3 separate regions of the Homo sapiens genome follow, and regions 1 and 2 are each linked to region 3. The links come from fine-mapping of genetic effects on gene expression. A gene starts in region 3. Each other region holds a variant in brackets. All regions are shown on one strand. Distances are between the middles of the regions. Region 1 holds the start of H3C14 (H3 clustered histone 14). Region 2 holds the start of H2BC18 (H2B clustered histone 18). Region 3 holds the start of H2BC21 (H2B clustered histone 21).

Evidence for each region.
Region 1: its variant is fine-mapped to the expression of H2BC21 in whole blood (INTERVAL, PIP 0.99).
Region 2: its variant is fine-mapped to the expression of H2BC21 in whole blood (TOPMed, PIP above 0.99).

What each region holds. Positions count from the first base shown.
Region 1 is chr1:149,841,146-149,850,676 of GRCh38, forward strand. H3C14 (H3 clustered histone 14) reads right to left here and starts at 63. Exons shown (of 1, transcript NM_021059.3): 1 at 1-63. The coding sequence starts at 12. H2AC18 (H2A clustered histone 18) reads right to left here and starts at 1,605. Exons shown (of 1, transcript NM_003516.3): 1 at 1,073-1,605. The coding sequence starts at 1,553. The coding sequence ends at 1,161. It also overlaps the pseudogene H2BC19P, a transcript of H4C15 not described here and the pseudogene H2BC20P. RefSeq lists an enhancer at 4,180-4,943. The variant T/C (reference allele first, on the strand shown) is at 3,028.
Region 2 is chr1:149,807,215-149,817,522 of GRCh38, forward strand. It overlaps H2BC18 (H2B clustered histone 18), which reads right to left and starts at 5,156. Exons shown (of 1, transcript NM_001024599.5): 1 at 4,665-5,156. The coding sequence starts at 5,109. The coding sequence ends at 4,729. H3C13 (H3 clustered histone 13) reads right to left here and starts at 6,479. Exons shown (of 1, transcript NM_001123375.3): 1 at 6,011-6,479. The coding sequence starts at 6,467. The coding sequence ends at 6,057. RefSeq lists enhancers at 4,816-4,895, 6,119-6,408. The variant C/T (reference allele first, on the strand shown) is at 5,983.
Region 3 is chr1:149,879,028-149,888,574 of GRCh38, forward strand. H2BC21 (H2B clustered histone 21) reads right to left here and starts at 7,655. Exons shown (of 1, transcript NM_003528.3): 1 at 5,432-7,655. The coding sequence starts at 7,613. The coding sequence ends at 7,233. It overlaps H2AC20 (H2A clustered histone 20), which reads left to right and starts at 7,891. Exons shown (of 1, transcript NM_003517.3): 1 at 7,891-8,384. The coding sequence starts at 7,948. The coding sequence ends at 8,337. It overlaps H2AC21 (H2A clustered histone 21), which reads right to left and starts at 8,938. Exons shown (of 1, transcript NM_175065.3): 1 at 8,442-8,938. The coding sequence starts at 8,889. The coding sequence ends at 8,497. RefSeq lists enhancers at 6,199-6,248, 6,258-6,851, 6,629-6,708, 7,119-7,208, 7,279-7,568 and 5 more.

The sequences.
Region 1 (9,531 bases), 38 kb before region 3:
AGTACGGGCCATAGCGAACCAAAACACAGGCTTACCAGCGCAGCGGCGGGGAGAAAAACGAGCTCCTAGCCCCGCCGCAGCCGTCTTTATAAGCACAGTCTTTTCCCGATTGGGCGGAACAATAATTGAAAATCCCGCGCTGGCTGTCCATTGGCTGTGACGTCACCCGTCCTAAAGTCACCGGTTGGCTTGGGCAGATTCCTCCCTAATCCCGCCCACCCCGCCTCACTTTCTACTTACCAGTTGGCGAAGTTTCGCAAGCTTGTTTTTCCCCTTTCCTTCAGGGTGAAAGTCATTTTCCATTGCAGCTTTGTCAGATTGTTCCCTTTCCGCCCTTCGCTTCCTTAGAACACACTGCCCGCAATACCCCCCCTTTCTTGCTGCGCCCTACAGCTCCCGCGTGGAACCTCATTCTTCCATTTGCCCCCCGCCCCCAGTTGCTACTTGGCGGATCGTTTTTCGCCTGTCGGGTGCCTTTTGGGTGGGAGAGGTGCCCGCCCCCAGGACGCAAGATTCCGCCTCCGAGGCCCTTACTCTCCGCCGCCAGGGCGCTTTGGAAAACAAAACAGAAACTAAGACTTAAGTCAGCTCAGTGAAGCCAAGACCCAGCTCCGCCACACTAGCGAGCACTACCCGCTCAGGGCCCTCCCCATCGGGGGTGGGGACGAGGAGCACGTCCCGCTGGTGCCAGACTAGGTCTAAGTGTCCGGCCATAGCCTGCGGAAACCACTAGGGAAGCGCGCGCTCCGCGCGCAACACTTCAGCGCGTTGGGTACTGCCCGCGGCGCTGGTGTTTGTGACTGTGTGGAGCGGACCGTGGCGGCGCCCAGGACGTTTGGTGCCTGCACCTGCCCTGGGAAGTCCTAGGACTGGGGACCCACTCATCGAAGAGCCAAGGCAGTTACGTGCTCCAGATGGAAGACGGCGCGCACACACACACACCCCGCCCCGCCCCGCCCCGTCCCGTCCCGTCCCGTCCCGTCCCGTCCCGTCAGCTCCAGGTTCGCTATTCACTACTGAGGAACGCTGGACTGAGAGTGGCCAGCATTAACAACTCTTTTATTTGAAAACGTGGGTGGCTCTGAAAAGAGCCTTTTGAGTTCACAGGTGCCCCTTCGAGACGCGGGCCGGGCTGGGCCCACTTGGGCCGGACGTCAGCCTCACTTGCCCTTTGCCTTGTGGTGACTCTCCGTCTTCTTAGGGAGCAGTACGGCCTGGATGTTAGGCAAGACGCCGCCCTGGGCGATGGTGACTTTGCCCAGCAGCTTGTTCAGTTCCTCGTCGTTGCGGATGGCCAGCTGGAGGTGACGAGGGATGATGCGCGTCTTCTTGTTGTCCCGAGCCGCGTTGCCCGCCAGCTCCAGGATCTCGGCGGTCAGATACTCGAGGACCGCAGCCATGTAGACGGGCGCGCCGGCCCCCACTCGCTCCGCGTAGTTGCCTTTGCGCAGCAAGCGATGCACTCGCCCTACCGGGAACTGAAGGCCAGCGCGGGACGAGCGCGACTTGGCCTTGGCGCGGGCCTTGCCTCCTTGCTTGCCACGACCAGACATGACAGCGATAGTAGTCACCGAGAGAAACTCCTGCCTGGCGATCGGGAAAGTCGCCGAAAACGCCGCTGCTTCACCTTTTTATAGACAGAACGGCGATTGTCCACGGAGCACTTTGATTGGCTCAAGCAAATTTTGTCCCGATAGCCAATAGGATAGCTCAGCCAGAATCCACTCATTTACATAATCTCGTCTCCCTCGCATTGCGCGCCGCGGAAAACTCGCGAACCATAACGCAGCGTCATGCGCACAGCCTCTGTAAGTACACAGTCGTTTCCGGTAGACCCCGAGCCTACCGCTCTGCTTGCGTTCTCGGGGGTCGGTGTCGGTCTTGGGTCTGGCCATGCCTGAGCCTGCAAAGTTCGCGCCGGCTCCCAAGAAGGGCTCCAAGAAAGCCGTCACCAAAGCCCAGAAGAAAGACGGCAAGAAGCGCAAGCGCAGCCGCAAGGAGAGCTACTCCATCTACGTGTACAAGGTGCTGAAGCGGGTCCACCCCGACACCGGCATCTGGTGCAAGGCCATGGGCATCATGAACTCCTTCCTCAACGACATCTTCGAGCGCATCGCGGGAGAGGCGTCCCGCCTGGCGCACTACAACAAGCGCTCCACCATCACGTCCCGGAGATCCAGACGGCCGTGCGCCTGCTGCTGCCCGGCGAGCTGGCCAAGCACGCCGTGTCCGAGGGCACCAAGGCGGTCACCAAGTACGCCAGCTCCAAGTGAGTCCCTGCCGGGACCTGGCGCTCGCTCGCTCCCTCCCTCCCTCCCTCCGCGGGTCGCCGGCTGCTTTGTCTCCAAAGGCTCTTTTCAGGGCCACTTAACCCCGTTAGTGAAATAAGCTGTTTTCCCACTGCTTACTGTGAGTTCTACTTAGGGGTTTTCCCTCAGCACCTATCCCTTTTCCTGCAGATGATGGGAGAGGAATATAAGATAAAGCTATAAGATGTAGCTTGGTCGAGAACTACCTTGTAGTGACAGGGTCATGTGCACATAATTTGCCTTTTCCAAAGTGAGACGATATGCTACGGGTGCGGTCAATGTAAATCTGCTCAGGAGAGTCAAGGGAAAAAGTGTTAACTGCATATTGAGCTCGCAAAATTGTGTAGTAACCTGAAAATATTCCTAATAGTTTTGCGACCAAGCCTCACCATATAAACTTTCCTTCCGCACCTGTAGACCTCCATTCTGTGGTTGAAGCAATTTTTGGTTTATATAGCTCTCTTGTCTCAATTTGGTATTCCTTTCAGGTACTGTGAGTCTATAGGTATTTATTTCTGGGTTTCAAGACGTTAAATGCCATCAGAATTGAGTAATGCAAAGGCTGCTGTCATGGATAGTAAAGCTTTTTAGTCAAGTGCTGATAGACAATTCCCCATTGTTATCGTTGGGTATTTTACAATTTTCTGGGCAAGAAATGTAATGAAAAATTAAGTAAGTTTTAAAGGCCTTCGTCTTTGAGACTGGATACCTAAAACAA[T/C]AGTGTTTCCTAAACAGTTAAAACTTATTTAACCCTGAAGCTTTCGAGACACACAAATATATACAAATATATATTGTATATTTCTTAAACCCCACATAGTTCCACTGATCTAAATCACTGGGGGCGAGAGGCAAGGATAGACAATCTATGACACAACACCAGGTGATTCATAAGTTTGGTAACCACTGACATTTGATTATGCAGTTGCCATATTCCTTAGTAAGAACCTGGTCACAATTTTCACTCACTACCCCAGGCAATTCCCCCTCCCCACACCCCCCTTTTTTCTGAGAATTTCAGTGAGATATACAAAAGTTTCATTTAATCCTTTATTAATTCCAGACTTTATATATTTTTATTAGGATTTAAAATACATTTCAAAAAGATCAAGTGAGAACAGAAGATAAAAGTACCAAGATAAAGGCATAATACAAACTTAGAAAATACATGTTAAGCATACTGCGGCGTCCTGGTAGCCCCTTGCTTTTGTTCACTTTTTTCTCTTATGTACCTACATAAAATCCCAAATAGTATCTTCCAGGATGACACACTTGCTGTCTGCCCCACCCAATTAAAAACAGATTTTTTAGTTATTAGGTATTGTGCTGAATCTACCTTATTTTATTGCCAAAAGAAAAAAAAAAAAAAGCTTTTCAAAGCTTCATCCCCAGGAAACATTTTCCTGCTTTTACACATACCTTATATGGCTCTACTGAGAGATAAGGCCTAAGCCTGAAAAGTTAATTTAAAGCATGGAGGTAGGGGTGAGACAGAAAGACAACAGGGAAAAGTTGAGTTTATAAGGTAAGTATATATCTTCCTTTTAACAGCCACCTGCATGGCGTTCGGTAAATAACCTAATTATATGTGGGGGAAGGTAGTGGTCAACATTTGGTCCTGGGGACTGAGAATAAGAGCAGGAAAGCAATAAACAGCTAACTATGAGAGTGACTTAATGTAATTATATTACCTGTCAATCGCTACTTTTCCTTTCTTACCAAAATTCACACAGGTATGAAAGCAATATGACATTCAGGCTCCATTATGTGTATTTGTGCACATCACTTCCCACGATAAGGGAGAAGAAAAGAAACCACTGCACATTCGGATAAAACATGCTGGGAATACAGCAGTAAACAGAATAGAAAAAGTCTACATTTTAATTAGCAGATAAGTAAAAATAAGTGACTAAATGTATATTATTCAGGGGGCCATATGTGCAATTGCTGTTAAGTAAAGCAGAACATGGAGTGGAGTAGGGATGACAGGTTTCATCAGTTAATACTTGAGCAGAGAGCTGAATACAGTAAGATAGTTGTAGGATATCTTGAGGCAGAGTATTCTCAGAACAGAACATGGTAAGTACAAAGGCCCCAAGGCAGGAACAAGCTTGGTGAATGTGAGAAATATGCAAGCTGGTTAATGTGGCTGAAGCACAGTGACCAAGGGAAAGTTTTACAGAGATCACGGAGGTGCTTGAGGGCTGGATTATGTAGGCCATTAAGGAGCATCACAGGCCACTGCAGAGATTTTGTCTTTTAAATGAGATAGAGTGCTCTTGGAGAATGTGACTGGAGAGGCCGATGGTAGCAGTGGAGATGCAGAGTAGTAGCCGAGATATTTTAAATGAAATTGATTTAGTATAGGCTGACTGAAAGAGAAATCAAGGATTAATTGTAGGTTTTTACACTGAGCACTTGAAAAGAGCTGCTATTTGCTGATATGAGTAAGGAGTAGTCTTGGAGGAAGAAAACCAAGAGTACTGTTTTGAACAAAATGTTGAAGACTCCTGGTAAATATCGAAGTGTAAATATCAAATAGGAAGTCAGAAATATGAGAATCTGGAGTTTAGGAAAGAGAAGGGGGTTAGGTTTGTAAGATCTCATATCAGTCTGATTCTTATTTTTTTGTAGATAATCTACCCTTTCTTTCTGTAAATGTTTAGAAGCATGATGTCTATGTGTGTATATATACACACACACTCACTCCCCCCCGCCAGGACTGCCTCAGTTTTCATCTCAGTATTTGACTAAAACCTTCTATTCAACTTCAGTTTCAGCCTTAGAATAACCAGATGTCTAAGTCAATGTCATTTGGGGCATCTCTAGACTTGTGCAATCACAAAAGTCACCATTACCGCTACATAGTACGTATTATGACCAATGGATATCATTCAGAGTTCTAGTTTACATATGCTATTATCAAACATATGTAAGCCTTTTAATGTAACTTGGGAGTGAAATTAGTAAAATTCTATCAATTTACATAAATTAATTTTACTGTAAAAATAAAATACATTATGAAAGTTTCTGTACTAATGTCTTTGATTACAATTTTTAAAGTATTTCCCATTTTTTTATTTTGAAAATTTTAAACCTACAGAAAAGTTGGAAAAAAAAGTACAAAGACCAGCCATAGTCCCTTCACCTGGATTCACCAATTATTACAATTTTGCTGCATTTGCCTTATCTTTGTCTTCTCATGTACACAGACAGCCTCTGAACCATTTGAAAATAAACTGCAAATATGTTGGCACTTCTCCCTAAATATGGTGGCATGTCTCTTAAAAATAGGATATTCTCCTAAATAGCTACAATCACATTATTACACCTAACAAATTTAATGCTGATTCAGTAATATTAATATGCAATCCATATTCAAATTTCTCCAATTATTGAAAAAATTCTATATAGATGTTGTATTAGTTTCTTGTGGCTGCTGCAACAAATTACTACAAACTCAATGGTTTTAAAACAACAGTCATTCTCTTACAGTTTTGGAGGTCTGAAGTACAAAATCAATTTTACTCGGTAGAAATCAAGGCTGCACTCCCTCCAGAGACCTTAAGGGAGGGTCTATTTCCATGCCTTTTCCAGCTTCTAGAGGTTTATTTCTGGTTTATGGTCCCTTCCCTCTGTCTTCAAAGCAAGCAGCCTATTAATCTTCAAATCCCTCTCTCCTTCTATCGCCTCCTTCTACACTTGACTTTCTTGCCTCTCCTATAAGGACTGTGGTGATTACATTTGGGGCCTACCTGGATAATCTGGCATAATCTCTCAATCTCAGAATCACATCTGCAAAATCCTCTTGGCTATATAAGGTAATATTCACAGGCTGTAGGGATTAGGATATGGACATATTTGGGAGCCACATTTAGCCTGCCACAGCCATTGACTACTGTTATGGGTTGAGTTGTGTCCCCCCGAAAGATATGTTGAAGTCTAACCCCTAGTTGCTTAGAATTTTGCCTTCTTTGGAAACAGGGTCTTTACAGAGGTAATCAAGTTAAAATGAGGTCTTTAGGGTGGGCCCTAATCCAGTATGACTGATACCCTTATAAGAAGACATGGAGACAGCCGGGTGCAGTGGCTCACATCTGTAATCCCAGCACTTTGGGAGGCCAAGGCAGGTGGATCACCTGAGGTCAGTTCGAGGCCAGCCTGACTAACATGATGAAACTCCATCTCTACCAAAAATACAAAATCAGCCGGGCGTGCTGACGCATGCCTGTAATCCCAGCTACTCGGGAGGCTGAGGCAGGAAAATTGCTTGAACCCGGGGCACAGAGGTTGCAGTAAGCCAAGATCATGCCACTGCACTCCAGCCTGGGCAACAAGAGTGAAACTCCATCTCAAGAAAGAAAGTAAAAAAACATGGAGACATACATGAAAAAACTGAGGTAGAGATTACAGTTATGCTGCCAGAAACCAAAGAACAAGTGGGGCTACCAGACACTGAAAGACAGGAGTCTTCCCCTAGTGGGTTTGGAGAGAGCATGGCCCTACCAACACGTTGATTTCAAACTTCTAGCCTCTAAAACCATGAAAGAATAACTTTGTGTTGTTTTACGCCATACAGTTTGTGGTACTTTGACAGCCCCAGGAAATTAGTACAACTACTAAAATTTTTTGATTTAGTTTATTTAAAATTTTTAAATAAAATTTCACATCTGAAAAAAAACCCTGGACATTTTTCCTGTGATGGTAATATTAGTCTTTAGCCTTAGTCAAGTATTAACATTTGGACATCTGTTCCAAATATGTAATTGGAGCAACTCTGTCCTAATTGACCCTATTTGACTTGAGACCTTTCATGAAAGGTCTTTCCTTTTATCTAGGAAATTATTATTCCTGAAATATTTCAAGATTCAAACTGGTATAAGTAAATATGTCAGACAAATTGGCTTAACTGGAAGTCCAAAGGTGCAGCAGGGATCCAAGGTTGGCTGAACTCCATGAGTGGCTCAGTTCCCTGATTCTCCCACACTGTGTCCTCCTCTGCATATTGTCTATAATCATTCTTGCCTTCATACCTAAAGACAGTCCATCCTCCTGCTGCCTCTTGAAAGCAAATAAGCTGCTTTCCCAAAAGATAATAGCATACTACACTCCCCTGCTGAGTTAGTTGTTACTCAGTTCACTTCCTGAAATGTTAAATGCCAATGAGTTTGATCTAGATTCCTGAACTAATCACAGTAAGAAGCAGGTTCAGACAGCAATTAAACTAATCAGGCCAACCCTAAGAACTGTGGGTAAAATGCGTTTCTGGGAAACACATGTGGCAGCACTATAACAGAAACAATTAGAAAAATAAATGCTACCTAGTCAATAACATACATTATAGGACTATGAACTACTAAGTTACACCTCATGACAAACACATGAGTAATAAAGTCTAGAAAAATACTTAAAGGTGATGTCCATCATTCTCATTGCTGTGTTCACAGTTCACAGGTAGACCCTAAAGACAGGCTTGTGTTGTCTTTACTGAACCCTAGATGCATCTCTCAAACTGTCAACTGCACATATCCACTTGAATAGCAAAGAGCTTCTCAAATTTCAGTCGGAACTCTGGATCTCCCTTCAGTGTCCCAACGAATATCTTCTCTCAGTGTTCTATCCTAATAGTACCACTATCTACACAGTTGCTCAAGCCAAAAATCTAGGGGTTTCACTGTTAGCTAAATCCTGTTCCTCAGCCACACCTATTAATTCTACCTCAAAGATAAAATCCAACATTTGTTTCCATTACCACCATTGCACTCCAGCATGTCATTTATCCGTTGTTTTTCACACTTTAGCATATATCACCATCACCCAGAAAGCTTAACACAAATAATGGAACCTGGGAATTTTCATTTTTAGTAACTTCAAGTAATGCTGATGCTGCTGGTCTGGAGAGACTTTAAGTCTTAATCACTGTTCCAGCCCACAACACTGCAACAGCCTCCTAATTGCTTTCCTCGCTTCTATTGTGGCCAGCCTAGGATTTACGATCCCCAGAGCAATCAGTATAATATTTTGAGGTTAATGAGGCTGTGTGATTCCAAGTCCAGTGTTCCCAAAGCAGAAAACAAACCTAATCAACCTCCCTTGCAAATTGGTGGTCCTTCTCCTCTTCAGGGATCCCAAACTCTGGCTTCAGAAATCGTATATTTTGTTGCTATTGTATGGAACAAACCCTTAAACTGGACAAGCTTTTCCGAGTGATAACTCTTGGGGAAAAAAACCATTTAATGGTATTGGGTAGATTTTAGGGTATCTCAACTAGAAAGCGCAGAAGGTTATCGGTGTTAACTCCTGGTTATCAAAATCGAACTTCCATCTACCTCCTTAAGGAATTTTCACATGAGTGGTGGTGTAGGCACGTGTTTGTGAACCAATGATATAAAAACCTCAGGTTTCTCGATACCATATATAAAAGTTGAGCTATTCCCTTTTAAGTACACATCTGAGAGCATACAATGCATTTAATCTCTACCTTCATTTTACCACTGAAGAGCGGACCCAACCTTTGTTCATATACACAATTTGATCTTACATAAACTTATCAAAATTAACACTGCGTTTCTCAACAGGAAACAATCTCCTGGGCACATATTCACGGGTACGTAACCAGGCCAAAGACAGTTCAAGAGCAGCCCTCTAAGGCAAGCCCCAACCTATCTATGCCATAGTAAGATACCACTATCAATCTATGTAAGCTTACTTATAGCAATGCCTATGTGAAAAGAAAATAGTTATCTGTGCTTGGTGTTGTGTGCTCTCCTAAAGTTAACCAGACGTGAAGCCAAAAACATCAACTGGGACTGACAACACAAGAAAGATTCTTTAACTGAGGTGGTTAAATGGCCCTGAAAAGAGCCTTTGGAGACAAAGCAGCCGGCGACCCGCGGAGGGAGGGAGGGAGGGAGCGAGCGAGCGCCAGGTCCCGGCAGGGACTCACTTGGAGCTGGCGTACTTGGTGACCGCCTTGGTGCCCTCGGACACGGCGTGCTTGGCCAGCTCGCCGGGCAGCAGCAGGCGCACGGCCGTCTGGATCTCCGGGACGTGATGGTGGAGCGCTTGTTGTAGTGCGCCAGGCGGGACGCCTCTCCCGCGATGCGCTCGAAGATGTCGTTGAGGAAGGAGTTCATGATGCCCATGGCCTTGCACCAGATGCCGGTGTCGGGGTGGACCCGCTTCAGCACCTTGTACACGTAGATGGAGTAGCTCTCCTTGCGGC
Region 2 (10,308 bases), 71 kb before region 3:
AGTCACACCAATCTATAATCCCAGCACTTTGGGAAGCCAAGGCAGGTGGATCACTTGAATCCAGGAGTTCAAGACCAACCTGAGCAACATAGTGAGACCCCATCTCTACAAAAACAAAAACTCTAAAAATTAGCCAAGCATGTGGCATGCACCTGTAGTCCCAGCTACTCAGGAAGCTGAGGTGGGATGATCACTTGAGCCTGGGAGGTCAAGGCTGCAATGAACTGTAATCATGCCACTGCACTCCAGACTGGGTGACAGAGCAAGACCCTGTCTGGGAAAAGAAAAAGGCATGGCGGGGGGGGGGGGGGGCGGGCATGGTGGTACACACCTGTAATCCCAGCACTTTGGGAGGCCGAGGCAGGCAGATCACCTGAGGTTGGGAGTTCGAGACCAGCCTGGCCAACATGGTGAAACCCCATTTCTACAAAAATACAAAATTAGCTGGGCATGATGGCTGGCATCTGTAATCCCAGCTACTCGGGGGGCTGAGGCAGGAGAATCGCTTGAACCCGAGAGGCAAAGGATGCAGTGAGCCGAGATTGTGCCACTGCACTCCAGCCTAGGTGACAGAGCAAGATTCCATCTCGAAAGAAAGAAGAAAGAAAGAGAGAGAGAGAGAGAAAGAGAGAAAAGAAAGAATAATCACACCCCAAGAAAATCAAGCTAGGACCATGGTGAGCAATGCTCCAAGAGTGTTCTGATGCTGTAAACTGAGTATGATGTGCATAAATTGTTTTGCACTCTGCAGGTAGGAGGGTGGGATAGCCAAAGCTGTTCAATATAATAATATTAAAAAATAAAATCTCAATTGAAGTAAAATACAAATTTTCTTAAGCAATATTTTAAAGTAAATGGAAATGTTACAACCTGGATGAGGGGTGAGGAATTAATAACCTCTAATCACAGAATAAAAATGGAATGAGAATTCCATCTACCCAAATCAGACAATTAAAAAGTTGAAAGAGGTTACAGTAAAAACTGGGTAAAACTAAAACTTAAAAAATAATTTCAGAGGATACATGATATACTCGTCACACAGAAAACTCCAGTTGAACCTTATGGACTTGAGGAATGGATACCTTTGTGTCTCCATCACTTAGCACAGTAGCTGGCACCATGTAAGTTCTCACAGAATTTTCCTGAACTCTCCAACCAGAGGCAACCTTTCACTCTCCATTCACATAACATTTCCTTCTTTCTCTTCTTTTGGGAATAACATATCTTGCTTGAATTATATTTATCTTTATGCCAGTTTAATTCTCTCTTTTAGATTCATTTACATCTTTGTATCCTCTAGCTCATTATTTTTTCAAAATAAAATGGATTAACATAAAAAATTATTAAAGAGATAAACTAAAGGAAAATATTACAACCTGGCTGAGGGGCAAAAATTTTATGTTCAACATATATTTGATAATACATACTGAGAAAACACGGTCTACTTTTACTTTTCAAAAGTTTGTTCATGTTGACATTGTGGGGCCTAGAAGATTTTTATCAAGTTTTCTATTTTTGCCAAGTCATATGATCTGCTATAGTTCAGCTATAGTTAATCAAATGTAGAAAAGAAAAAAATTTTCCATAATATCTAGTAATTCTCCAAAACAAGCTTGTTCCTAGTTAAACACTGACATTCTTTGGTAACTCTCACTTTATCCCACAGAGGTCATGTACTTATTTCCCATCTGTTGTCCTATGCTTACATTCCAAATTCAGTTGCATTGACTTTTAGAACAGCTTTAGGAACTGCACCCAGTTTTAAAATACATTATTTGTCTAAAAATTATGACATGAGATTAAACTGTCATCTTTGTAGGTTTCTACACATACTCCAACTCATTCACCAATCCTTGAAAAGATTATGTAACCAATCTCAATGCCCTGACCCAGGCCAAGCCCATTTCTACATGTGCAGTGTTCTCTGGATCTGATATTTAAAGCCCCTTATCCTGATACTACACACCTTTTGTCTTCTGGAATGCACCTCTCTTCTCATCCTTTTTCAAGGCACTAGAAAAGCAGACCATTTCTGCAGCACCTCAAACCAGGGTGAGAAAGCTCCACTCTAATCTCATCATTTTAGCTACATAGATACATCGGCTCAAGGGAAGATGCCAAGTGTAGTACTTTACCACTCTGAGGATTTTTGAATCTATAACAGTTGTTTCAACTGGGCCAATAATTATGAAGGGCAATAATTAAAAGAGTATCCATAGTAAAGGAGTAAGAAAAAAAGTTAGAAAAAAAGTAGAGAAAAATATTTACTAGAGTATTTACTAGAACCCACCACTCTCAGATCAATTTTCTAGTGTTCTGTTGACTGGCAACCAGTCAACAAACTTTCATTGAGAAGCTATTTTATAGTAGGCATTGGGATAGCCTTTGTGGAATAAATACCGAGAAGCATATGTCTCTAGCAGAAGACAGACAAGAAAATGTAAAAACAAGAAAAAGAAATTGAGGAATAAGCCTACAGTTTAAAAAGCTACACAATTATTCGTTATGCAAGGAATGAGGCCTTAAGAGAAAGACTTCCCTGTGAACTACAATGAGATGAAAAAGCTTCTCAGAGTGAGATTTGAGCAAGAGTTTAAAAGAACTGACAGACTGATAAAAAGCTTCAAGTAGTCCAGAGGACTGAGTACTAAAACTCAGAACAATGTAACAAAAGCACAGAAGACAAAGTTAAAATGCTTTACATGACAGTAGAACATTTAGGCTAAGCTGGAGGACTGGGGAGAACAAGTGAAGAAGGTAAGTTTTGGCTAGATAATAGGTGGCCTTTAGTGTCAGGATGAGGATTTGGAAGTTAATCTTTTGGTCAGTGGATAATAAATGATGGCATTTGTGTAGTTGAGCCAGTTGACAATGCTTTAACAACTTCAAAAGGCCCTGAAAAACATGGTCCCTAATCCTTAAGAAAAAAGGAACTCCTGACTTCAGGACCCTAAGCTAGGAGGAAATTGGATAAATTCTCTTATGGCCCAACTGTATAGAAAATAGACCACCTCGGCCGTCTCACTTACTGAGTAACCTTTCCTACCAGAGAATGTGCTATATATGATTTCTTTACTTTCAACGGAAATTTTGGATTCTCAGTTATCTTTCCCTGACCTCTTGTCTGGTGATCAGAAAAAGATGACTAAACTGGGAATCTTTATTTTCTAGTGGAAAAAAAAAATCATGTATACCGCATTTTATATCTTTTAATTGGGTGTAAATTTGAATTTCAACATCATAAAAATTAGTAAAATTCATTTTAAGCACAAAGTTGTTAATTCCCCCAAGATTTATCAAGAATGGCTTAATTTCAAAGGCTGTCAAGTTAATTATAAGCTAAGATTTTCCAGTTGCACCAAGGGTATATTTTATTTGGCAAAAGAAACATCCACTGGCTTTTGTCAGGATGAGTCTTGAGTTATTCAAGTTTTGAACTGAGAGGTCTTCAGAAATTCACCCCACATATTAACTGTGGCCTTCTCTACACCACAAATTCCCCTCCACTCATCCTCAAATTGTTTCCTTTCTCAGGACATCTGTGACACAAAGACTGTGACACACCCACAGGTCGATTAACATGAGGACCCAACACCTATTAAAACATCCACACTCCTGAGAACACTAAAAACCAACCACCTCGTCAGGTCCCACCTCCAGTCTAGCTGAATCAGGAAACCTCAGGAGAAGCACCTGGAAGCAGGTTTAACAAGCGCAAAGGTGACTCTTATAATTGGGAAAGTTTGGAACCAAGACAGGGTTCTTGTCCTGGAGGAAGTATTTTCCTGTGGAGAAGGACCTGTAAACAGCCTATGAAGTGCTCAGCTTTCACCAAGAAAAGAAAAACATGGGCTGATAGGGTTAAGGAAACGTTTGACTGAAGAGGATTAAATCCTGAAGGTTAGGGATGTCTTTGGGCGCTGGGGTCTCTCAATCACCAAAGATCGACATTACAGGCCAGGTAGCTCTTTGTCCCCCCAGAGGACTGTCCTGTGCCTTATGCTTAGCACTCCTGGCCTCTGCCCATTGGATACTTCTAGCACCTCCCCCGCAACACACACACACCTGACAACCCAAAACATCTACAGATATTGCCAAATACTCCACAGGGGGTGGGGTGGTGGCAATATATCTCCCTGTTTGAAGTCACTGGAATGGAAGTTAGGGGAGGATGGCTAAGTCAGGACTTGCAAAAAGGCTAAGGGACGAAAGCACATGGCTATATTAGACAAAGTTTGTGACAGACGCCTGTAGGTATATGGTAAGGAAAACAGATTAAAACACTAAGAAATAGTAAGAGGTCGGACCGAGGGTTTCTCATCTGTATGGGAAATCTCATCTCGTTCATTACTTTCAGAAACAAAAAGGAAAACGACTTTAAAGATACAGGTTAAAGGCCGAAGGGGTGTAGAACCACCCCCCGCCTCCTTCCCTCCATCCCTCCCAAATATCCCAGAACGAGTCAAACCTTTCGAATCTCGTAGCACAGATAACAAGCAACTCAGTAAGACTGGACGGGGATGACTGAGGGCCAACTCATTACAGGACTACAGGAAACTCCTTAGTCCTAAACCCGAATGCATCCGTGACCATGGTAACACTCCCTACCTGACCAAAAGCTATCAAACGCTCTGACAAGTGTTTACAGCTGCTTTCTCGATTACTGAAGTGGCTCTGAAAAGAGCCTTTGGGGTTAGGTGGTTGATCTATTGCGTCCCTTGCACACTCTTACTTCGAGCTGGTGTACTTGGTGACCGCCTTGGTGCCCTCGGACACGGCGTGCTTGGCCAGCTCGCCGGGCAGCAGCAGGCGCACGGCCGTCTGGATCTCGCGGGATGTGATGGTGGAGCGCTTGTTGTAGTGCGCCAGGCGGGACGCCTCTCCCGCGATGCGCTCGAAGATGTCGTTGACGAAGGAGTTCATGATGCCCATGGCCTTGGACGAGATGCCGGTGTCGGGGTGGACCTGCTTCAGCACCTTGTACACGTAAACGGAGTAGCTCTCCTTGCGGCTGCGCTTGCGCTTCTTGCCGTCCTTCTTCTGCACTTTCGTAACAGCCTTTTTGGAGCCCTTCTTGGGAGCAGGAGCGGATTTCGCTGGATCCGGCATTTTTGCGCGAAAAAAGAGAAAAGAGACTTAAAGAAGTAATCCGAACTACCGCAAAACGGGCTGGTTATGCGCTACTTATAGAGCCCGTATGCAAATGAAGACTCGCAAAGTGCTGCGCTTTCATTGGTTAACTTACAACGGTGTCGTCAGAGGGGGTGGAGTCTATGTAAATAATAGATTCTAGTCTTGCTTCCTTAATGGTCACTGTAACAAAAGTCTTGTTATCCTATCAGAATGGTCCATTTCACACTAACCAGTTTTAAGCTAGGTGAAGCGATAGTTTCTACGGCTTGGGGTTTTTTCTTGGTTTTCACTTTCCATTAGACTTGCATACGGAAGAAATCTTAACGCCAGCTAGACAAGTTAACTCTCTTGCCTCGTTTTTGCATTTTTATTCTATACTTTGTGGAAATTTTTTTCTCTTCCTTGAAATACTACCTCACCCATTTTTAAAAATCGCCAGATATTTACTCCCGCCCGCTTAAATTACTATTCTGGCTTGGACACCGCCTGTAGTATGCAATGAGGAAGATGCTGAGCTTTAATTAAGCTTATAGTTCCTAAATAAACCAGGAAACGGGTTTATAATTTTTAAGGGACTCGCCCCACCCTTACACTCAGGATCTTCCACATCTAGAAACTCCCCATAGTCTCTTGCCCCCATGCAAAACTTTACCCACAGAATTGGGAGCCGGACCTCTAGCCTTAAACCAGCGTGAAAACGCTCGGCCGGAACCACAAGGACCATGCCTCTGCGGCTTTCTCTACTGCCGGCCAACTCACGGCTGGGCTTTGGGTTCTGTAACGTCACCCACCACGAGTGCCCCTGGCCCCTGACCGCTGCGCAAGGCAGACGCACATCAGATGGAGAGC[C/T]GGTACAGCTGCTCTTGATGAAAACGGCAGTGGCTCTGAAAAGAGCCTTTAGATCGACCACTTAAAAATATGCCTTAGGCCCGCTCCCCGCGGATGCGGCGGGCCAACTGGATGTCCTTGGGCATGATGGTCACGCGCTTGGCATGGATGGCGCACAGGTTCGTGTCTTCGAACAGCCCCACCAGGTAGGCCTCGCTGGCCTCCTGCAGCGCCATCACGGCCGAGCTCTGGAAGCGCAGGTCCGTCTTAAAGTCCTGCGCGATCTCGCGTACCAGCCGCTGGAAGGGCAGCTTGCGGATCAGCAGCTCCGTAGACTTCTGGTAGCGCCGGATCTCCCGCAGAGCCACGGTGCCGGGCCGGTAGCGGTGCGGCTTCTTCACCCCGCCCGTGGCCGGCGCGCTCTTGCGGGCCGCTTTGGTAGCCAGCTGCTTCCTCGGGGCCTTGCCGCCGGTCGACTTGCGGGCAGTCTGCTTAGTACGGGCCATGCTGTCTCATTGATAGGAGAGGGTCTAGGCAGTCATATTTATAGACATAGTCTCCTCTTGATTGGGCCTGAAAAGGAAATTTTCAAACTTGTGATCTCATTGGTTAAAATTCAATCCTCTTTACTGGGGCGGAAGATTGTTCTGCTAATCTTTCTTCCCTTATTATTTCCCCCTTTCCTGATTTTTTTCTGTAATTTTATCGATCACGGATTGTTTTTGAAGACTTTCCTTTAAATTAGTCTAACTTTTGTAAAAGCAATGTATAAAGTGTTTTGCATCCCATTTTAACAGAGATTTTTTTTTTCCCCGAATTCAAGCATGCCCTTCTATGAGCTATCAGCCTGTTTCAGGTTACCTGTTACTGTAGCTCTTCTACCATAGCTAACATTTATTTCATGTCTGGCATTTTGCTCAGCAAGTTAGATGCATTGTATACCATGAATGACCGAAGCTTAGCAAAAAAATATGTAATTGAAGGAATGAAAAAATTGATCTTATTTACTTGACCTTGGAACCCAGCCAAAGCCATTTCATGTGGGTAGTGTGCTGACCTATATTGACCTGATATTAGAGCCTCTGCCTTCCTTTAGTCTTTTCTCCCTGCGATGTGGTTCCTTCTTCCTCAACCTCACATCAATGGCCAATTAGGTCCTGCAGATGTTAAGCTTCTAAATCAAAGAAGGACAACACCAGAAATTCATTTCTCCTTTACAATGTAGAATAGTTTGTAAATTAGTGCTTATTAGCCAGATTACAAGTTCAAGTTTCAAAGCAAATTATTCATCAATTGCTGACTTGCTAACATTTTATTCAATAAAGTATTTTATAATGCTTAAAAGTTTAGTTTTTTTTCTGTTCTCTATGAAGAGAGTAAAGATGCTTTGCTTTTTCAATTTCATGTGCTTTGAAGTATGTATTGTTCAGAACAGTAAATATCATAGTGGTTATGTAGAAGCAACTGATACTTAAAAGTTGTAGTAGTTAATATAAAACTTTTAATCATATCCTTATTTTACTAAAAAAATCATTACAAACTATAAAAACTCAAACCTGAGAAAAGCAGGCCCGAAACGCTTAAAACTTACTTTGATGGTGTCATTATGAACTATCTTCCTACTGAAGTCAAAGTAAAGTAAAAGTGATTTCAAGGGGACTTCCTGAACACTAAACACAAAGTAGAAATCTGTGAGCTTAATTAATATCTTCAAGAGTCTCTCATGGGCAGAAGCATCCTCCTCTCGAGAGATCTAAAATGTACAAAAGTGTAACTGATGTGAACAAATGTTATCCCTCTCTGTGGTAGTTTTGTAATAATGCCTTACAGACAGCAGGCACTACTCAGTGTTTAAAGTTCTTCTACATACACTTTATCATTTAATCCCTACTCTGTGAAATAGATGTTACTCTTCTCACTTTACAGATAAGAAAACTGAGTCTCAGAGAAATTATGGCTTGTCCTGGGTAAGTAACAAAGCCTGTGTAATATTCTAAAGCAAAAGAATGAAACTGTAATGATGAAACTTTCTATTTCATTAGGCTTAGAGGATACCTTTTTTTTTTTTTTTTCATTTGAGATGGAGTCTCACTCTGTCACCCAGGCTGGAGTGCAGTGGTAGGATCTCTGCTCACTGCAGCCTCTGCCTCCTGTGTTCAAGCAATTCTCCTGTCTCAGCCTCCTGAGCAGCTGGGACTATAGGCGCAAGCCACCACCCCCAGCTAATTTATTTATTTATTTGTATTTTTAGTAGAGACACGGTTTCACCATATTGGTCAGGCTGGTCTCGAACTCCTGACCTCAGGTGATCCACCCTCCTCGGCCTCCCAAAGTGCTTGGGTTGCAGGCATGAGCCCCACGCACCCAGCCAACACAGTTTAAAGCACAAAAGCGTTTTCCCATCAAGCAATCACATCATCTAGTATTTCTCAAACATCTACACCCAACTATTCCCATTAGAAGGGAAAACTACCCCATGGAATCTGGATGATAGCCCAAAGCAGCCCACCCAAGCATCACATTTCTTTGCAATATACTTTCTCTATGATGTATGCAGTCTTGACCATAATGTAGGATGTGTTCATTTAAATAAGAAAATGGCATTCAATCAGACTTTAATGGCTATAGGTATCATTTCTCAGAATAAAACAATCAGATGTATAGTTGCCTTAAAAGTCATCTTTAATAACAGAATTCAGATCAATTGTTAGTTCAATTTCACCTAGTCCCCACATTGGACACTAGAGTGACATTTCTGTGAAAGGTCTCAATCCACCACTATATCAGAAGCAACTTTATGGTGCAAAAGAAGCTCTGCTTTTCTTCAGTTGTAACAAAGACGGAATATTCCTCCTAAAATTTTTGAAGTGTCCTTCAGCAGAAATTATAAGGCTGTGCAGCTTGAATACTGAGAACAGAAATTTCATTAGGTAGCACGGGGGAATAGACAAGAGAAGATTAAAATTTACCTAACAAGAAATAAGAAGGCAAAAGAAAATATTAATAAATGAATTATTACGCACATAATGTTTTGTATGTACATGTGTTTACTTTTAATACAAAAGTAACGGACTAAGTTAACATAGATGTTCCAATAAGATAATTTATGTTTCATTTTTGGCTTCAAGTATCCTCAGGGTTATAAGTATCATAAGCTGAGACCAGCTGAATTGGTTTGTGGGTTGATGAGGCCCTATGCCTGATTTGAATTTCTCTTGAATGGTCTGCAGCCCTGGACCAAGTTGAAGAAGCCATGAGAGTCTCAGCTTTTTTCCTTACCCCATTATGAGATAAACTCATTCCTTAAATATCTTGCTCATTTGATAAAACTTGGCACCTTTCTCCTTTCTACTGGTCCCTAATACTTACTACCTGTACTGTAAGCTCAAATTTTTTGCAATTTCTGCCTTTATTATGTAACGTATTCCACTGGAATATGTGTTACAGGAAAGGGGTCCCGATCCAGACCCCTAGAGAGGGTTCTTGGATATCCAGCAAGAAGGAATTCAGGGCCAGTCCATAAAGTGAAAACAAGTTTACTAGGAAAGTAGAGGAATAAAAGAATGGCTACTCCATAGAGAGAACAGCCCTGAGGGCTGCTGGTTGCCCATTTTTATGGTTATTTCTTGATTATATGTTAAACAGGGGTGGGGGGGTGGACCACGCCTATAATCCCAGCTACTCCAGAGGCTGAGACAAGATCATTTGAACCCCGGAGGCAGAGGTTGCAGTAAGCTGACATCGCTCCACTGCACTCCAGCCTGGACCACCCAGGGATAATCCGTCCCCCGCACCCCGCCCCCCCAAAAAAATCACTGCCAGTAAGGAACAAACAGCCAGGACGAAGTACTAAGATGTAAAGAGATGTAAAATAGCCCGGGCGCGGTGGCTCACGCCTGTAATCCCAGCTCTTTGGGAGGCCTAGGCGGGCAGATCACGAGGTCAGAAGATAGAGACGATCCTGGCTAACACGGTGAAACCCCGTCTCCACTGAAAATATTTTTTTAAAAAAAATTAGCCAGGCGTGGTGGAGGGCGCCTGTAGTCCCAGCTAATCGGGAGGCTGAGGCAGGAGAATGGCATTAACCTGGGAGGCGGAGCTTCAAGTGAACCCAGATCGCGCCACGGCACTCCAGCCTGGGTGACAGTACGAGACTGTGCCTCCAAAAAAAAAAAAAAAAAAAGAAAGATGTAAAATAATGTGATACATTCTGCAAGAGTTATGACAGAGTCAGAAAGGGGCAAGCATGTTTCTTCTCTACCCTGAAGCAGCCAAGGGAGAAGAAGATATCTGTTGCCAACGCTGGGGTGTTACAAGTGCACACTGCCATGCCCGGCTAATTTTTTG
Region 3 (9,547 bases):
ACAGTGGTGCAATCCAGGGTCACTGCAACCTATACCTCCTGGGTTCAAGTGATTCTCCTGCCTCAACCTCCTGAGTAGCTAGGATTACAGGCACCTGCCACCATGCCCGGGTAATTTTTATATTTTTAGTAGAGCTGGGGTTTCACCATGTTGGCCAGGCTGGTCTCGAACCTCAGGTGATCTGCCTGCCACGATCTCCCAAAGTGCTGGGATTACAGGCATGAGCCACTGCACTCGGCCTAGTGAGCTTTTTAAAAGAGGGTCAATGCCTTCCCTGAATTAGATAAAGTGGAAGCAACAGAGATGCTCTTCTGCTGGCCATTAGAAGCAAATATCCATGCTGTGACATGCCTGTGGAGAAGGGCAGCCTCTGAGGGCCTCAATTCTACACCTGCAAGAAACTGAATTCTGCCAACAACGTGGATGAGTTTGGAAGACCCCAGGCTTCATATGAAAATGCAGCCCAGTTGACACTTTGATTTTACCCTTGTGAGATTCTAATCAAATACTCCCACTATGCCATGCCCAGACCTACAGAAACTATGAGAGGCTAAAGGAGTATTGTCCTAAGCCACTTAATTTGGGGTAATTTTTTACACATAAATAGAAAACTAAAACAGTTTTTTGCCTCCTTCATTCAGAACATGGTTTTTGTTTATCTTCTCTCTCCCTGCTGTCTCTATACTTGTCTAAGACCTCATTACTGGTTGCAGCAGCCTCCCCACTGGTTTCTGGTTTCCTGTATTCTCTTTCTTCTATGCATCCTGCACATTTCTTCAGAATAAAGATACAAAGGTCATAATAACCTGCCCAAAATATTGCTCTTGACTTGCTCAAGAACCTATACCAACTCTCCCAGGCCAGTTCCATCAACTCTGATTTTTAGCTAGTTTCACAGTTCTCGATGACCCAGGCCTCCTTAAAGAGCCTGACTGGCTCTCTTAGTCCGTCTGATGACCAAACCTGTGACCGAGGACACATTAGTGAAGTTAACTAGTCAGGAAAATCACTCCAGAGACTGCCTCCTGCAAAGCAAGTGTTCATAATCTTGAGGGATTTTTAAAAAATAGGTTAGGAATAGTGGAGACTCAATCCCAAACCTATATGTTACCTCATCCACCCTAGGGACTTCTGGAGTTTTTGTTGTTGCTGTTGCTGCTACTGTTATTAAGTTGATTGCTATTTGCATTGATGAAGTTTTTTTAACCATTTTTTAGAATTAACTACAATGTATTGAGAGCCTACTCAGTGCCAGGCAGTAGAACAGGTATTTTTAAATACATTATTTTCAACAAAAAAAAATCTTATAGGCTTTTTTTTAATGGCCAATAATCCCACTGTTCACATAACCTCTGCTGACATTGTTTTTAAGTGAACATTGATCATAAATTTAAACAGTACTGAAAGATATAAAGGAAAAAGCAAAATCTTTTGGCCCAAGGAAATTCTTCTCCTTAAGAGTAGCCACTATTGGCCGGGTGCGTTGGCTCACGCCTGTAATCCCAGCACTTTGGGAGGCCAAGGCAGGTGGATCACGAGGTCAGGAGTTCAAGATCAGCCTGGCCAACATGGTGAAACCCCGTCTCTGCTAAAAACTACAAAAATTAGCGGGGCATGGTGGCACGAGCCTATGGTTCCGGTTACTTGGGAGGCTGAGGCAGAAGAATCACTTGAACCCGGGAGGTGGAGGTTGCAGTGAGCCACGATCGTGTCACTGCACTCCAGCCTGGGCAACAGGGCAAGACTCCATCTCAAAAAAAAAAAAAAAAAGAGTAGCCACTATTGGTCAGGCACAGTGGCTCATGCCTGTAATCCCAGCACTTTGGGAGGCCGAGACAGGTGGATTACCTGAGGTCAGGAGTTTGAGACCAGCCTAGCCAACATGGTGAAACCCTGTCTCTACTAAAAATACAAAAAATTGGCCAGGCGTGGAGGCACGCACCAGTAATCCCAGTTACACGGGAAGCTGAGGCAGGAGAATCACTTGAACCTGGGAGGTGGAGGTTGCAGTGAGCCAAGATCGTGCCATGGCACTCCAGCCTGGGCAACAAGAATGAGACTCCATCTCAAAAAAAAAAAAAAAAAAAAAAGGGTAGCCACTATTATTAGTTTTGTTATGTGAAATCCCCGGAAAGTGTTTTATTTCATATCGGTGCATACATATCAATACACACATATCCTTTTTTATTTCCACCAAAAGGGACCCTAACATTTTATTGCCACATACTAGTAGATATACAAGTAGTTTCCAGATATTTACTATTAAAAATAATAATTTTTCCCAGCGATTTGAAAAGAAGTGAGAGGATCACTTGAGGCCAGGAGTTCAAGACCAGCCTTGGTACCATACCATCTCTACAAAAAACTTAAAAATTAACTCAACGTGGTGATGCCTACCTGTAGTTCTAGCTACTGGGAAGGCTCAGGTGGGAGGATCAGTTGAGCCTAGGAGTTTGAGGTTCCAGTGAGCTATGATCTGGCCACTGTACTCCAGCCTAGGTGACAGAACAAGACCCTATCTCTAAAAAAAATAATAATATTCCTCTTTACTGAAGTATTCCAGCTAATATATGAAAGAAGAGTGACAGAATATCATTATTTTGCAATTGATAATGAATTAATTGATCTAAGCATTGAGAATCAATCACTGCTGTTACCACAAAAAAAGAAGCAGCTAGACATTACATGTCTCCTGATAGAAAAGAAATAGTACCACCTATGAAGTAGTCATGTCATGGGGTGAAAAACTAAACCTAAATCTAATCAAGCCTCTAAGTACCAATTTACAGAAAATAGAGCACAGAGGCTCATGATAAACTACATCCTGAAGACAACTCTCTAAAGAGCACATATTCGGTTCCCCTGATCCACCCATCATTCTACTGGAAGCAGAGTTGTAAAGAAAGGCAAACTATAATGAGAAGGCCACCTGCAGCACACAGAGGCAGGTGACCATGGTAGTTGGTGTCAATCTGGTTGGCCTGACAAAGCCATTTCCACTTTAAGGGAAGCCCTGTTGCAGGGAACAAACACACACTTTTGAGGGTCAGGGTCCATCTGCTCCAGAAAGTGCTTGATGGGCATAAACCATGTGGTCTCTGAGACTTTAACTCTTCTGTTTTTAGTGCCACACAGCTCCTTTCTGTTCCCATAGTCAGGTCAGCCTAGGAGCTCATTGGTTTCTTTAAAGGCAGTTTATACATTCTGGCCTAATCCTGCAAGATCTGGCTCTGTCTACCTGTGTAACCTCTTGATGCTGCACTGTCCTCCTTGCCCTCTAACCACCACCTGTACTAGACTTCCTGCAGTTCTTCCTATCTACCTGACCATGATCTTTTCCACTCTTTCCAGGCCTTTGCCCATGCCATCCACTGCCTGGTACACCCTTCCTATCCTTGTCAAGTGTCATCCTAAAGGTTCTTTCCTCAGGGAGGCCTTCCCTACACCCACCAATGTGAAGTTACGACTCCCTCCATTATACTCTCTATATCTATACTTCTACAGTCGTAATACTTGTCACACTTTCTCATAGTCACTGGATTAATATGTCTTCTCTTCTAGTCACTAGAGGTCCAGGAAGGCAGAAGCCACGCCTGTTCAATTTTCTGTCCTCACTACCTAGCAGATTGCCTGCCATCTTCACAGATAATAAACTCTTGAATGAAAGAACAAATGATATCACACCTAACAATGCTTAGGAGTCAGAGAGAAGAAAATTGGTCCCAGAATGCCGTTCTTATAGAATTTAATAATGTGCATAGATACTTAATATTTATAAAATTAGTAGATACAGATTTTCAATCACACATATTAAATGAATTATTAAACCTAGTCCCCTCGGTTACAGGGACAGTCTCTCACTTAAGGGTCAATTTCTGAAACCCAAACAGAGCTGCCCTTTAGGCCTACTCCAGAATTATTGATAAGCCATATTACAGAGCTATGACAGTGTCCTTTTGGTCCTTCATTTTTTTTTCCTTTTTTTTTTTTTTTTTTTGAGATAGAGTCTTCCTCTGTTGCCCAGGCTGGAGTGCAGTGGCGGCAGCCTCCACCTCCCGGGTTCTAGGGATTCTCCTGCCTCAGCCTCCCGAGTAGCTGGGACTACAAGTGCCCACCACCATGCCAAGCTAATTTTTGTAGTTTTAGTAGAGGTGGGGTTTCACCATGTTGGGCAGACTGGTCTCGAACTCCTGACTTCAAATGATCCACCCACCTTGGCCTCTCAAAGTGCTGGGATTACAGGTGTGAGCCACTGCGTGTGGCCAACAGAACCTATCTTAAAAAGTGGCTGTAGGCTGGGCGCAGTGGCTCACGCCTGTAATCCCAGCACTTTAGGAGGCGGGTGGATCACGAGGTCAGGAGATCAAGACCATCCTGCTAAGTAAGTGTAAGGTAAACTCTTAGCTTACTGCTAAGTAAGTTTAAGGTAAACAGTTAAGTGCTTAGTAAGGGGAAGCAATCATTATTTTAACAATTATTGTTATTAACCCCAACATAAGCAAATGTTTAAAGATGTCTGAGCAGGAGAAACGATCAAAGAGGTTCTTGAGGATTAATCTCACCAATTACTTCCCCTCCAGAGTTAAAATATCAAAATCTATCACCTCTTCCCCCCCTTCCTCACTCTATAACATCCTTCCCAGTGAACATCATCCCCAGGTGGAGCCCAAAACCAGCAACTAAGGCTCTCTCATGTTAGTGAAAGGATTCCAGCTGGTGAGCCCCACCACTGTGGGGACAAACTCAATTGAGTTGAGCTATGGCCTCTGGGATGAAGGATCACAGCCACCTAATCCCACCCTCAATGTACTCAGCCACCACCACCCAGGATTTATATCCAGGGTGCACTCTGAAGAGAATAAAGCCAGTGGTATTTCTTTTCAATTCTAAAGCATAGATATTTCCCCCTAAAACACAGGAAGGGTCCAGGTTTTCAGAATGACCCTGTTTCTCAAGTCCCTTAACTGCTAACCTAGGAGCTTATTCTCTGGAGAGTTTCTGAAGAAAGGCTTCTCTTTGCCTCAGTTTCCTTATCTGTAAAATGGGTGATAATAACGGTACTACTTCCTGAGGTCCCAGTGAGAATTAGATGAGTCAATACATATAAAGGGCCTAGGACACTACCTGGCACGTAGTAAGTGCTCCGTAGGTGTTAGCTTAACTTTATTATGAACTTTATTTCTTCCATCTTATTTGTACTGCTGTCTATTTGTGATCATATATTTTTCAATTACTAAGCATTAACAGTGGCCTTGTAACAGACTATTTCAGCCCCAGTGCACCTTTGGGGCAGCAGTTTGGCTGGTGGCTTATAAATAGTCATCCCCCAGATCAGAGGCACCCACGCTTTTCTACAGACACAGTGGAAGTTGTATCTGTTAATTTCATTCATTGAGAAAATACACTGTAGATAAAAGAATCCAGCAAAGCCTTTAAATTAATTGGTAACTTTATTAATAACAATAGCATCTATACACATTTGAAAACACACATGTAGGAGACAGTTAAGATCTATTCAGTCTGTGATAATGTCTAGAGCTCATTTGGATTCATCAAACCCCTGCCATCAGCTCCAAAAGCCCTTAGCCAAAAACAGCTGAATCACTCATCAAACCATCAGTGTCTTCCTCGGCAGAATCAAGGGTTGGACAGAAAGAGTAAATATTCTGCACCTCCACAAAATAAAACTAAAATGCAATTGTCCTGCATCTGAGAATACAAGGGTGGACAGTATGAGCTGCATGACTGTGAACCAATGAGGCTTCTCTTGGCCTCATTTGTAAAAAGGAGATTAACTCTGTAGTCCCGCCTATATTGCATGGCCTCCAGAAAAGCAAATGAGGTGGTAAGTGTAAATTAAAAGCTCCTCTCCTTTAAGAGGGGAACACCATGAGGGGAGAGTAAGAAAAGGAGAAGGAAAAGGCTCTTTCCAGTGACCAACACGCTGAATTTGATGAAAATCCATAAGAGGTTATGCTAAACTGAGAAGCATAAGGGTGGATCTACCATTGCCACCTCCTCTTTGTAGCAAAAAAAATCTTAACACGGCCCCCTCCCAGCTGTTGCACTGAGGTGACTAAGGATACATTTTGAGGAAGTAGCTCCAAGAACATTTCCATTTTCACTGTGCCTTCACATACATCTAATGGAAATGAACAGCACCCTTCATCCATCCACGGAAGCGATTAAGAAAAGGGTGGGATGGAAAAATTAACCCAACAATATTAGATCAATACGTAGTATTTAAGTGTCCATAATGTGCCAGGCTGAAGATGCACGGGAAAACCACACTAGCCGGTCTGTCAAGGGCTTGAGAATACCATAAACAAGAAAACAGACGAACCAATTTCAGACAGCTGCTAGAAGGAAGATAAAATGAGACAGGCAAGTATGAGAGGCGCGAATTCCTGAGTGGATGACGTAGGTCTCTGAGAGGTGACTTTTGAGCCCGTATCTACATGGTAAGTGCCTCGCAGTGACCTGGGGCCGTAGCGTTACCATTTAAAGCACAGACCATTAAATGCAGAAATTATCAACAAAATGAGAAATAGGAATTTCAAAGTCTCAAAGTGAACGACGGAAACTGAAATCTACAAATTAGAAAAAGGCGCAGAATTTTGAATATTCTTGTCGCCCAATCAGGACAAGGCTGGGACCCGGCTGCGCGGCCTTCGTCCAAAATACACAGAACGGCTGGTATCCACAGGAGGCCCCATCGCACGGCAGAACTGGTGACCGGACACAAAAGCTGCTGCCAAGCGTCAGTCATACAGAGCTGTCACGCAGTGTTTGCGGAACCCGGGCTGAATTGTGTCCTGGAGTTCTCTTAAATGACAGCCGAACTCAGCCACTTCGTTTTAGAATGAAACAGACCCAAGGAGCCACCAGGGCGCGTGTGGGGCGGGAGTGGGGGCGGGTAAAGAGGCGGATTCCCAACAGCCTAATTGAGAACCGACTCCTGGGAAGGCTAAGCAGCACAATGAGTAAAGACACGCTCTAGATTCAAAAGCAAATCCAATGACGCACTGGGGACCTCGAGTTCCAAATAGTTAAAAAGCTACGTATGCCATTTCCCATGACCTTCACACTAAAATAACTTACTTTATGAAAAGAAACTAAGGGAATAAGTGAACAAGCTCTTTTCTAGTGATTAGGTGGGTGGCTCTGAAAAGAGCCTTTGGAGTCAAGCAGCCGGCGACTCGAGCGAGCGAGCGCCAGGTCCCGGCAGGGACTCACTTGGAGCTGGTGTACTTGGTGACCGCCTTGGTGCCCTCGGACACGGCGTGCTTGGCCAGCTCGCCGGGCAGCAGCAGGCGCACGGCCGTCTGGATCTCGCGGGATGTGATGGTGGAGCGCTTGTTGTAGTGCGCCAGGCGGGAAGCCTCTCCCGCGATGCGCTCGAAGATGTCGTTGACGAAGGAGTTCATGATGCCCATGGCCTTGGACGAGATGCCGGTGTCGGGGTGGACCTGCTTCAGCACCTTGTACACGTAGATGGAGTAGCTCTCTTTGCGGCTGCGCTTGCGCTTCTTGCCGTCTTTCTTCTGGGCTTTGGTGACGGCTTTCTTGGAGCCCTTTTTAGGGGCCGGAGCGGATTTTGCCGGTTCAGGCATGGTAAGACACAGTACAAACGCGGCTTAGCCAAGAAAAGAAGTAAGAGAATGGGCGGGCCTGATTCTTTTATAACCACCTTATGCAAATTAGGGCTCCGAAAGTCGTTCATTTCCATTGGTCCGTGTGCGGACCTTGCGTTTTCAGCAATGCGTACGTAACAACACCGACTCTTGACTTGATTGGCCGGTTCTGAAGCCATATTAGGACCAATGAAAAACTCGTTCTTGACCCCACCCCTAGGAAAGCTTATAAAGGCTTTCCTCTTGGTTCTCTTTCAATCTTATTTTGTTGCGAGGTTCTGAGCGTTGTCTGTGTTTAACCTTGATTTCAGTCATGTCTGGTCGTGGCAAACAAGGAGGCAAGGCCCGCGCCAAGGCCAAGTCGCGCTCGTCCCGCGCTGGCCTCCAGTTCCCGGTAGGGCGAGTGCACCGCTTGCTGCGCAAAGGCAACTACGCGGAGCGGGTGGGGGCCGGCGCGCCCGTCTACATGGCGGCGGTCCTCGAGTACCTGACCGCCGAGATCCTGGAGCTGGCGGGCAACGCGGCTCGGGACAACAAGAAGACGCGCATCATCCCTCGTCACCTCCAGCTGGCCATCCGCAACGACGAGGAACTGAACAAGCTGCTGGGCAAAGTCACCATCGCCCAGGGCGGCGTTTTGCCTAACATCCAGGCCGTTCTGTTACCAAAGAAAACCGAAAGCCACAAAGCCAAAAGCAAATAAATGCAGACAAACAAACCAAGACCAAAGGCTCTTTTTAGAGCCACCCAAGTTTTCAAAAAAAGAGCTAATGCGCTATTTCGTGATCAGCCCTTCATTTGACACTTTGGTGGCTCTTAAAAGAGCCTTTGGGGTGAATGAGTATGGTGTCAAGCCTCTTAATTACTTGTTCTTGCCAGGCTTGTGACTCTCCGTTTTCTTGGGCAACAGGACAGCCTGGATATTGGGCAAGACGCCGCCCTGGGCAATGGTGACACCCCCGAGTAACTTGTTGAGCTCTTCGTCATTCCTCACGGCTAGTTGCAGATGGCGAGGGATGATGCGCGTCTTCTTGTTGTCCCGAGCCGCGTTGCCCGCCAGCTCCAGAATTTCCGCGGTCAGGTACTCGAGGACCGCCGCCAGGTACACCGGGGCGCCTGCCCCGACCCGCTCCGCGTAGTTGCCTTTGCGCAGCAAGCGGTGCACTCGCCCCACCGGGAACTGGAGACCAGCGCGGGACGAGCGCGACTTGGCCTTAGCGCGGGCCTTGCCTCCCTGCTTTCCGCGTCCTGACATTACGGCTAAAATTGCAGTTACAGCTTCTTTTACAAGGAGAAGAATGTGGAAAGAATAACCAATTTGATGTAATTTATAAGAGCTACCGGGAGGGGTGAAGGGAAGTCGTTTGATTGGCTAAAAGCGGAGCCGTATCTAACAGCCAATAGAAAAGCAGAAAGCCGCCTCTTGGTTTGCGTCCTGCACTGAAAGGAAATGACGGATTTTGTAAGTATCTACCAATCGCTGAGAGCCACATTAAAGCCCCTTATTTGCATGCCAGGATCTTTAAAGAGAGCAGGCTTTCAAACAAAATACTGGTTTTGTTTTACTGAGAGGCACTGTGGGTTTTTGTTTTGTTTTGCTTTGCTTTGTTTAGTTTACAGCCGGGAAATCCCAATATGGACCCTAAGGAACTGCAGAAGACATCCTTAGACGGAGAGTTACTCTCACGAAAGAGTAGGGGATTCTGAAGCCGATGATCCCCTTGAGCTCTAAACTGCCAAGTCCCGCCCTTTCTGTCTCGTCACAGCCAAATTCCCTTTAAAAATACATGTACTACTAAGGCTGCCTCCTTTCTCGCCCCTAAACTTAAGTCGCCCGCAGCGGCGTGTCTCCGCCCCACCCCCACCCGCCTGCACTCCTCGGAATCCGGTTTGACCGAGGCTAGAATAGATTT